3 linked regions of the Homo sapiens genome follow. The protein of the gene in region 3 purifies or fractionates together with the protein of the main gene of each other region. This does not show direct contact. Each region holds a gene or a part of one and is shown on either strand. Other genes may lie near its edges.

What was found.
Region 1: the proteins of NUDT13 (region 3) and CPT2 purify together in Homo sapiens (affinity purification with mass spectrometry; one large-scale study listed by BioGRID and IntAct). This does not show direct contact.
Region 2: the proteins of NUDT13 (region 3) and PLPBP purify together in Homo sapiens (affinity purification with mass spectrometry; one large-scale study listed by BioGRID and IntAct). This does not show direct contact.

What each region holds. Positions count from the first base shown.
Region 1 is NC_000001.11:53,203,324-53,206,823, reverse strand, and holds part of CPT2 (carnitine O-palmitoyltransferase 2, mitochondrial isoform 1 precursor), read right to left. Parts: intron 1-3,500. UniProt on the Homo sapiens protein: Involved in the intramitochondrial synthesis of acylcarnitines from accumulated acyl-CoA metabolites.
Region 2 is NC_000008.11:37,760,965-37,764,789, reverse strand, and holds the start of PLPBP (pyridoxal phosphate homeostasis protein), read right to left. Parts: upstream 2,131-3,825; coding exon 2,032-2,130; exon of another isoform or gene 1,977-2,031; intron 1,864-1,976; exon of another isoform or gene 1,526-1,863; intron 1-1,525. UniProt on the Homo sapiens protein: Pyridoxal 5'-phosphate (PLP)-binding protein, which may be involved in intracellular homeostatic regulation of pyridoxal 5'-phosphate (PLP), the active form of vitamin B6.
Region 3 is NC_000010.11:73,108,740-73,112,564, forward strand, and holds the start of NUDT13 (NAD(P)H pyrophosphatase NUDT13, mitochondrial), read left to right. Parts: upstream 1-1,715; 5' UTR 1,716-1,828; intron 1,829-3,825. UniProt on the Homo sapiens protein: NAD(P)H pyrophosphatase that hydrolyzes NADH into NMNH and AMP, and NADPH into NMNH and 2',5'-ADP. Has a marked preference for the reduced pyridine nucleotides.

The sequences.
Region 1 (3,500 bases), on a different chromosome or scaffold from region 3:
ATTAACTCAAAATTACAAGCCAAAGTCTCATCTGAGTAAAGGCAAGTTCCTTCTGCCTATGAGTCTGTAAAATCAAAAACCAATTAGTTATTTTCAAGATACACTGGTGTTACAAGCATTGGGTAAATGCTCCCATTCCAAAAGGGAGAAATTGGCCAAAACAGAGGGGCTACAGGCCCCACGCAAGCCTGAAATCCAGCAGGGCAGCCATTAAATCTTAAAGCTCCAAAATAATCTTTGACTCCATGTCTCACATCCAGGGCATGCTGATGTAAGAAGTGGGCTCCCAAGGCCTTTGGTAGCCCTGCCCCTGTGGCTCTGCAGAGTACAGCCCCATGGTTGCTTTTACAGGCTGGCATTGAATGCCTGTGGCTTTTCCAGGCACATGGTGCAAACTGTCGGTGGATCTACCATTCTGGGGTCTGAAGGGCAGTGGCCCTCTTCTCACAGTTCCACTAGGCTCCCCATTGGGAACTCTGTGTGGGGGCTCTAACCCCATATTTCCCATCTGCATTGCCCTAGTAGAGGATCTCCATGAGGGCTTCACCCCTGCAGCAGACTTCTGCCTGGACATCCAGGTGTTTCCATATAGCCTCTGAAATGTAGGAGGAGGTTGTCTCTTTTTTTTTTTTTTTTTTTTTGAAATGGAGTCTTGCTCTGTCACCCAGACTGGAGTGCAGTGGTGCTATCTTGGCTCACTGCAAGCTCTGCCTCCTGGGTTCACGCTATTCTCCTGCCTCAGCCTCCCCAGCAGCTGGGACACAGGTGCACGCCACCACACCCGGCTAATTTTTTTTGTATTTTTAATACAGACAGGGTTTCACCATGTTAGCCAGGATGGTCTCGATCTCCTGACCTTGTGATCCACCCGCCTTGGCCTCCCAAAGTGCTGGGATTACAGGCGTGAGCCACCGCACCCGGCCGGACGAGGTTTTCAAACCTCAACTCTTGTTTTCTGCACACCTGCATGCCCAACACCATGGGGAAGCCTCCAATGCTTGGGGCTTGCACCCTCTGAAGCAATGGCCAGAGCTGTGCCTTGGCCCCTTTTAGCCATGGCTGGAGCTGGAGTGCCTGGGACACAGGGCACCATGTCCCGAGGCTGCACAGAACAGCAGGGCCCAGGAAACCATTTTTCCCTCTTAGGCCTCTGGGCCTATGCTGGGAGGGGCTACTGTAAAGATCTCTGAAATGCCCTCAAGACATTCTCCCCATTGTCTTGGCTATTAACATTTGGCTTCTCATTACTTATGCAAATTTCTGCAGCTTGTGGCTTGAATTTCTCCCCAGAAAATGGGTTTTTCTTTTCTACTGCATGGTCAGGCTGCAAATTGTCCAAACTTTTATGCTCTGCTTCCCTTTTAAACATAAGTCCCACTTTCACATCATCTCTCTGTGAATGCATATGACCATATGCTTTCAGAAAAAGCCATCTTGAATGCTTTGTTGCTTAGAAGTTTCTTCTGTCAGACACCCTAAATCACCCCTCTCAAGTTCAAAGTTCTGCAGATCTCTAGGACAGGGACAAAATGCCACCAGTCTCTCTGCTAAAGCACAGTAGAGTGACCTTTGCTCCAGTTCCCAATAAGTTCCTCATCTCCATCTGAGACCACCTCAGCCTGGACTTCATTGTCCATATCTCTATCAGCATTTTGGTCAAAACCATTCAACTCTCTAAGAAGTTCCAAACTGTCTGACATCTTCCTGTCTTCTTCTGACCCCTCCAAACTGTTCCAACCTCTGCCTATTAACCAGTTCCAAAGTTGTTTCCACATTTTCAGGTATCTTTGTAGCAATGCCCCCCTCCTGGTACCAGTTTTCTATATTAGTCCATTTTCACACTGCTATAAAGAACCACCTGAGACTGGGTAATTTATAAAGAAAAGAGGTCTAATTGACTGACAGTTCCTTGTGGCTGGGGAGGCCTCAGGAAACTTACAATCACAGCGCAAGGTGAAGGGGAAGCAAGGCACATCTTATGTGGCAGCAGGAGAGAAAGCGAACAAGTGGGGGAACTGCTGAACACTTTTTAACTATCAGAGCTCGTGAGAAACCACTAACTATCATGAGAACAGCATGGGGAAAACTGCCCCCATGATCCAATCACCTCCCTCCAGGTCCCTCCTTCAACACGTGGGGATTACAATTCAAGATGAGATTTGGGTGGGGACATAGAGCCAAACCATATCAATCACATTAGAGCAAAGCCTGTAACTGACAAGCCTCACCCCCATCCACATAGCTTCCAAGAGCTTTTTAATATCTCACTCATATCGAAGACAACACAGGATTATGAAGCATCTGAAGAAAGAAAAGGGCAAAGCAAACAGAAGAAAAGCAACTTGGAGGCAACAGACTATGAAGAGAGAAGAGATCTTAAAAAAAAATTATCAGAGATAAACTATTTTTAAAAAGAACACCATAAGAAGAAAAAAGAGCTTGTGGAAGTAAAAAATAGGAAAGCAGGAGTTTTAAAAACAGGTTGAGAGATTAAAATTAAGTAAGTCTCCCAAGAAAATGTAACAAAAAGAGTAAGAGATGAAAAATGTGAGAGAAAAGAAAATTAGAGGATGAGACCCAGAAATTCTACACCTGAATAATAATAGAGTTCCACAAAGAAAAAACAGAGAAAAAAAATGGAGAGGAAGAAAGCCAAAGAAATAAAACAAGGAAATATCCCAGACCTGAAGGATGAGATTCCAGATTCAAAGGACTCACAGAGTGGCCCAACACATACTAAAACACATTACCTGAAATTTCAAAACACTGGGGACAAAGAGAAAATTCTAAAAAGCTTCCAAAGGCAGAGAGAAGAAGTAGTCAAAAGATTAAGTCTCAGAATAACATTAGATTTACCAACAGCAACACTGGATGCTAAAAGACAATGGAGCAAAGCCTCCAAAATTCTGTGGGAAAATAATTTCAAACCCAGCCAAACAAATTATCAATGAAGTATAAGGGCCATTTTAAAATTTTTGCTTCCCATATTCTGTTTCCAGATAGTACAGGGAATATGTGCTCTGATTTAAAAAAAAAAAAAAAGAAAAAGAAAAAGCCAAGAAATAAGAAAATATGAAAGACAAGAAACACGAGTCCCAACATGAGAGAGAGATGACAGATGCCCCAGCTGATGGTGAAAGAGCACAGGAGAGCAGCTTCACAGTAGGCCAAGAGGTTCACAAATCCAGACTACAGCATGTCGCAAGTTCTGGAAGAAGTTTCGTCAAGAAGACCAAAAGGGATAGAATGTCCAATCTGCTTTCATGTATTGAGAGGAGATTCAGACAGCTTGGGAAGAGTCTGGGGGTAAATTAGTAAGCACATAGAAAACTAAACAAGAGAAAAGATGGAACAATTATTAACTTCAGAGAAAACAAAAAGTTTGTACTGGAAAGGAAAAACAATCCCAATATGCTACATGAGTCAGCTGACAATAGTGTTTCTATGATCATAATAGCATAAAACTAGATACTGAGTTACCCAAAATTACAAATCCCTAT
Region 2 (3,825 bases), on a different chromosome or scaffold from region 3:
AAAGAGAGGTCACTTCTGGCTTCTGAAACCCAAACGTTAGCAGTTTGGCGACTCATTCTAGTCCTGGTGTATCATTACACCATAATAACACTGCCCCATTTACTCTAAAAGTGGCCCACTTAGGTAACTAAGTAATTGATTGTTCAATCTGTGAATTAAGAACCAGTGGCATGGCCAGGTGAGCCACACGCCTGTAATCCCTGCACTGTGGGAGGCCGAGGTGGGTGGATCACCTGAAGTTACGAGTTCGAGACCAGCCTGGCCAAAAGGTGAAACCCCATCTCTATTAAAATACTAAAACTTAGCCAGGTGTGGTGGTGGGCATCTGTAATCCGAGCTACTTGGGAAGCTAAGGCAGGAGAATTGCTTGAATCCGGGAGGTGGAGGTTGCAGTGAGCTGAGGCTGTGCCATTGCACTCCAGCCTGGGTGACAGAGTGAGACTCCGTCTCAAAATAAAACAAAAAACAACAGTCTGGCCAACATAATGAAACCCTGTCTCTACTAAAAATACACAAAAAATTAGCCAGGTGTGGTGGTGTGTGCCTGTAATCCCAGCTACTCAGGAGGCTGAGGCAGGAGAATTGCGTGAACCCGGGAGGTGGAGGTTGCGGTGAGCCAAGATCGTGCCACTGCACTCCAGCCTGGGCGACAGAACGAGACTCTGTCTCAAACAAAACAAAACAAAACAAAACAACACAACAAAAAAAAAAAAAAAAAGAAAGAAAAGAACCAGTGGCAGAACTAAGGCTGCGACACAAAAAATTCTGGATTCAGGATCAGACCTATGTGACATCCTCTCACGACCACTATACAAAGAGCGGGGGTTCTATGCGTTCTGCTGCCACCCAATCCACATAGAAACAGTAAGAGAAGAGATTCGTTTATCCTTGCACGATTTAGTCTTCTTGTATCCATCATCCCCTGAAGTTTTCACAGAATCACAGTGTTCTCAAGGACGTGACGGAGTCAGATCAATTAGAAAAATGTCTCCTCTTCCTTCCTTCCACAGCGATGCGTAACCAGCCTCGTTTGAGTCCAAGTCGTGACTACTGGGAGTATGCTGATGATTGACGCTTTCCAGAGAGTTACCCGAACAGGCAGCCCATCTGCCTGAGAGTTTCCCTGAGAGAACCTCCAAGGTGATGTTTATTAGGGGAAGCCCTAGATTTTTCTTGGAGAATCACCGAGAATCACAGAATATTAACATCAGAAGAGATCTCAGAGCTTTCAGAGCTGAGGGCCGGAATAGTTACCTGACTTGTTCAAGGTAACGTCTAAGGAATAGTCAAAGAAAGACTATAATACAGGTCTTGTCTTCAGCCAGCATAAATGCTCGATCAGAGAAACCTGTGACCTCTCTGTTAAGGTCCGTCTCATTCCACACCATTCAGCTTAAACTTGCACTGAGGTGGGCAGATTTTGATTCTTGGTCTAATCAAAGTCCAAGAGGATGTAATATATATATACACAAAAGACGAAAGCTCCCCTTAACCGGCTTGGGATTGGACTTCTCCCTCCTGCCCCATAAACAAGTGCCGCTCTGATGCCAGCGAAGTCCGGCCAGTCCACCCTCACCTCGGCCTCCGGGCGGCACTGGCATTTCTTGGGCACTTAGCAGGTGAGACGCTGCCACACACGCGATCTCGGGCGTCTCTGGCCTCCGCGGGGTGCTCTTGTACCCCCGTCTCCCCTTACCATCCGTGGGCACAGGCCTGGCCCCCCTCGCATCCGCCAAGGCTATCGACCCCGAAACGACGCGGTGCGCAAGTGGCCACGACACCTAGGCACTAAGTCATTTTCCCGAGGTAGCGGTACCCTCTGCTCCAACGAAGCCAATCTCCAGAAAACCTAACAGACTCAAGGTAAGGAGGCTGGGGAAACCCTTCGCTAGCCTTTCGGTGGCCCTAGGCGGCCGACCAGTCCCGCCTCTCTGGGAGACCCCTCTGCGTCACCGTGACGACCCATTCCCACGCAGGTGTCCCTCTTCTCAAGGCGGCCGCCCACCGTCCCCACGCAGCCTCCTTCCTCACCCGCGGCCGCCGCGCCACAGCCTGCTGCACGCGCTCGTTCACCGCCCGCAATGCGCACCCGACTCCCAGCTCGGCCGACATGCTGCCAGCTCTCCACATCCCCCGGGGACCGACGCCGAGCCCCAGGCCCCCGGCAGCCCGTGGCTCACACCATCTTCCGGTTCCGCCCAGCTTGCGCCGTGTGAACCAATCATTGCTCATCATTGAGTCGTCTCACCCAATCAACACCCGTGCAGCGTGGAGGCCCGCCCCCAGGCGGCGGCCATCTTGGGGAGGTCACCCGCGAACCTGGAAATGGAGCCTAGGGGCTGAGGTTTTGCGCGCCTGGTTCCAAGGGCCACTCCCCGTGTGCTCTCCTCTTTCCTGCGCCTCAGCCGCTGCCGTCCCCCCACCCCCAAGGGACTTTTGTGAGGCAGAAACGCATCCTATACTCGGGGGATCCTGTTTCCTTTCAAAACGCCTTTCCAGGCTTGCCCGTTCCCGGCTTTCTGGGCGCGGGGACCAGAATTAGAAGCCACTGGGGCGGGAGCCAGGGCTTTTCTCTGTCAGATGGTTCTTGCGAGGAACCCCTAAGCGATACGAAAGGAAACTCTTCTTTCTTCTTTTCCCTAAAGACATGGCGTGATTCAAACGTATCGTGATTTTTGTCATCTTTCAGACCACTGCTGTCCAAGAGAAATATAACGCCATCCAACTGTGTAATTTGGAAGTTTCTCATAGGCACATAAGCTTAAAAATTTTAATGATATACTTTATTTAATCCAATATATCCAAAGTAAGATTTCAACATGCAATCAATAGAAAAACTAAATGCGATATTTTAATTCTTTTGAAAATCGTATGTGTTTCTGAAACCCGGTGTAGTGTTGACTTGCATATGTCTCAATTCGGGCCATCCCTATTTCGAGAGGTTAGCGGCCACCTGCGGCCAGTGCTGTCTCATCAGGGGACACAGGCAGCATGATTATTACTATTATTATTATTGAGACAGTCTCGCTCTGTCACCCAGGCTGGAGTGCGGTGGCCCGATCTGGGCTCACTGCAACCTCCACCTCCCGGGTTCAAGCGATTCTCCTGCCTCAGCCTCCCCAGTAGCTGGGACTACAGGTGCGAGCCACCGCGCCCAGCCCACAGGCAGCTTTAGATGGTCTAGCAGGAGCTCAGCACATTCAGTTAGATTCTTTTTTTGAGATGGGGTCTCGCTATGTTGCCCAGATTATCTGGGACTCGTGGGCCCAAGCAATCCTCCCACCTCCGCCTCACAGAATAGCTGGGACTACAAACGGGCACCACAACGCCCTGAGTTTGATTCTTGAGTCCCCTTCTGTGGGCAATATGGTTATAAACTTGATGAGGAGCCAGGCCATACAAATAATAATACAGAATGCTACATAGTCAGGTGGTGAAATAGTAGGTGCTACGGGCAAGGAGAAGGAGATCAATTTTGTTAAGGAAAGCACTCTTGGCTGCAATTTCTGTTGAAAGTTTCTCAAACATTAATTCAACTTAATGAAGTGGGATGCTATTATATTAGAGAAATGGCTAATGTTTGTTCTTCAGGTGGTCTTGTCTTGAGGTGATGGGGTTTATTAGAGCTTTCCGGAAAGAAGGGGCAATATTCTTACTCTCTCCTCTCACAGTTTTTCCCCAGACTCCCAGGAACAGAGATGGAATTTCACATCTTCTGCTCTGGGAAAGTCACATTAGGCAGAACCTCAGATCCTTAAAATAAGGGACTTCTTTTTGGGAAGTCTCTGGTCATTTACCCTGGTACACATTAACTGGGTTATCTGC
Region 3 (3,825 bases):
TGCTGTATCCTATCCCTATAACAGTCCTAGGCACATTGGGTACTCATTAAATACATGTTGAATGAGTGGACTTCTTCTCTTGGCTGGGTGCGGTGGCTCACGCCTGTAATCCCAGCACTTTGGAAGGCTGAGGCGAGTGGATCACTTGAGGTCAGAAGTTTAAGACAGCCTGGTCAACATGGCGAAACCCTGGCTTTACTAAAAATACAAAAATTAGCCAGGCATGGTGGTGTGCACCTGTTATCCCAGCTGCTCGGGAGGCTGAAGCAGGAGAATCACTTGACTCCGGAGGAGGAGGTTTCAGTAAGCCAAGATTGTACGTACCACTGCTCTCCAACCTGAGCGACAGAGCAACTCCATCTCAAAAAAAAAAAAAGTGTCTTCTCTCATAGGCAAGTAACTTCAGTAGTAAAACGAGAAGAGAGCAGCACCAAAGTAGCTCTGCTGAGAGGTGAAGCCAGCTGGACTTCCTGGGTGGAGTGGGGACTTGGTGAACTTTTCTGTCTAGTTAGAGAATTGTAAATGCACCAATCAGCACACTGTAAAAATGCACCAATCAGCACTCTGTGTCCAGCTAAAGGATTGTAAACACACCAATCAGCACTCTGTAAAAATGCACCAATCAGCGCTCTGTGTCTAGGTAAAGGATTGTAAACGCACCAATCAGCACTCTGTTTCCAGCTAAAGGATTGTAAACACACCAATCAGCACTCTGTAAAAATGCACCAATCAGTGCTCTGTGTCTAGCTAAAGGATTGTAAACACACCAATCAGCACTCTGTGTCTAGCTAAAGGATTGTAAATGCACCAATCAGCACTGTGTCTAGCTAAAGGATTGTAAACGCACCAATCAGCACTCTGTAAAAACGCACCAATCAGCACTCTGTGTCTAGCTAAAGGATTGTAAATGCACAAATCAGCACTCTGTCAAATGGACCAATCAGCACTCCATAAAATGGACCAATCAGTGCTCTGTAAAATGGACCATTCAGCAGGATGTGGGCAGGGACAAATAAGGGAATAAAAGCTGGCACCCCCAACAGCAGCGGCAACCTACTCGGGTCCCCTTCCACGCTGTGGAAGCTTTGTTCTCTCGCTCTTCACAATAAATCTTGCTGCTGCTCACTCTTTGGGTTCGTGCCACCTTTAAGAGCTATAACACTCACCGAAAGCTCCACGGCTTCATTCTTGAAGTCAGCAAGACCAAGAACCCACTGGAAGGAACCAACTCCGGACACACTTCTAGGAGACTACTTCCAGTCAAATGGAATGCGCTTCCTCTGATCAAGAAATGAATCCTACCATAAGTTCAAACATATCTATACATACCTATACAGAGTCCCATCCTTTTAAATTGGAAGAACTTCATGAAATTTTAGAGCTAGTTCTAAAGTGTGCAGAGAGAGAACTAGAGATATACTAAGGTTAAAAGGTATTTGATTCCCACCCCTGCTTCATCCTCTCCCCAGCCTCATAATATATGCCTTCTGTGTATGAGGGTGGACTTAATGACTTTATCTTTTTTTAATTAAAAAATGGATCTAATACTAACCTACTTTCTCCAAGGATACAGTAGTTCTCTTGGTAATAAGATCTTAGATGTTCATGCTTTTGACAATCATGGTTAACTTGCAGCTGGAGAACACAGCAGCATGCCTGGGAACTGAACTACAATTCCCAGAGTGCATCTCTAGGAGGATTCTGGGAAGTGTGGCAGAAGCAGCAATGGTCCCTCCAGGGAACGGAAGCCGTTGAACGTGAACATTTGGAGTTTCCTCTTTTGTGCTGATTCCTGAGGACTAGGAAGGTGCCCCGAAAAGAATTCAGAGTGAGTACAGTGAAACAGAAACCTGCTCAGCTTCTAAGTGCAGGAAGGACTTCACAGGGAGGCATGATCAGAACTTGAAAAAAGGTCGTGGTCACAGCATTTTAACATTTTAGCTTAATCTCTTCCTTTTTGCAGAAACCAGGGATATAACCATAGTTTTGCCTCATAACTGTGGAGCTACATCAGTAACCACAGCTCATCATTTTCTGATACTTTTTTGGAGAGTCATTTAAAAATGGAACTTGCCAACCTCTCACATTGTGCCTTAATTTTTATTTTTTTTTAAAGGAGGGAAAATTATTTTTTAGAAAGCAAACTATAAAGCAGGTCAGTGAGACCTTCAAAGCTGTATTCCCGTGGTTCCTCAGTTTTCCATATTTCCCTGTCCCATGGAGGTCCACAGTCGTGGAGAAACGGACTCTAAACACAGGCGAAGTATCACTTGGTCGCCCAGGCTGGAGTGCAGTGACACGATCTCCACTCACTGCAAGCTCCGCCTCCTGGGTTCATGCCATTCTCCTGCCTCATACTCCCTAGTAGCTGGGACTACAGGCGCCCGCCACCACGCCCAGCCACTTTTTTTTGTATTTTTAACAGAGACGGGGTTTCACCGTGTTAGCCAGGATGGTCTCGATCTCCTGACCTCGTGATCCGCCCACCTCGGCCTCCCAAAGTGCTGGGATTACAGACGTGAGCCACCGCGCCCGGCCTAAAAAAAGGTCTCTTAAATACTAGGGAACCTGGCCTCTTCACGGTGGAAGTAACCACTAGATTCAAGATGGGCTTTTTTTGTTTTGTCTTGTTTTGTTTTGTTTTTTTGTTTTGAGACGGAGTCTCGCTCTGTCGCCCAGGCTGGAGTGCAGTGGCGCGATCTCGGCTCACTACAAGATGGGCTTTTTTGTCACGCTGTAGTACTTTATAATCTTTCTTCTGGAAAGATGAACAGGATAAGAAACGTGTGAATCATTTGTGTTGGGGAGTTCAAAGAAACTCTTAATGTTAAAGCACCTTGCCTCATCATTTAGTAGTTGGGTAAGACTGCTATTACCTTTCATCTCTATCAAACATTGTACTTTTAAAAACATAAATAGCTCTGTGACCATCAGCTCATGAGTCAGCAGCCATGATAATCTACAACTGGCTAAGGTTAATTTAGTAGCAGAAACTAGGCAAAACATCAGGCAGCAGTTCCCAAGGTCCAAGAAACTCACCAAATGAATTCCCTTTGGCTCATGGAATATGGTGAGGTGTTTTGGGGAACAGTGGCATGGAGGTAGCCTCATTAACCAGTTAGTCTCAGGAACTACTATTTTATTAGGCTTTTCTTTTGTCTTAAAAGGAATAAGTACACATGGCTAATTTTTTTTTCAGTACAGAAAAATGAACAAAATAAAAATTACAGGCACCTTTTTCAATATTTGTCTTCATCCCACTCCCCCAAATTAGTCACTCTTTAATAGTTTGGTATGTATACTTCTAGTCATTTGAAAAATATAAATAAGGCCGGGGGCAGTGGCTCTTGCCTGTAATCCCAGCACTTTGGGAGACCCAGGCAGGCAGATCACCTGAGAACAGGAGTTCGAGACCAGCCTGACCAACATGGAGAAACCCCATCTCTACTAAAAAAAATACAAAATTAGCTAGGCGTGGTGGCGTATGCCTGTAATCCCAACTACTCGAGAGGCTGAGGCAGGAGAATCGCTTGAACCCGGGAGGTGGAGGTTGCGGTGAGCCGAGATTGCGCCATTGCACTCCAGCCCGGGCAACAAGAGCGAAACTCCGTCTCAAAAAAAAATAGAAAGAAAAATATAATTAAATACATATAATTTATGTATATTGGTATGTCTGTGTCCTTTTTTTTATAAATAATTAGGTCATGTTAACCAACTGTTACCTGTTTTTTTCTCCAGCTTTATTAAGGTATAATATTAAGGTATTAAAGTATAATATATACTTTTTGACAAAAAAAGTATATATTTATAGTTTACAATGTGATG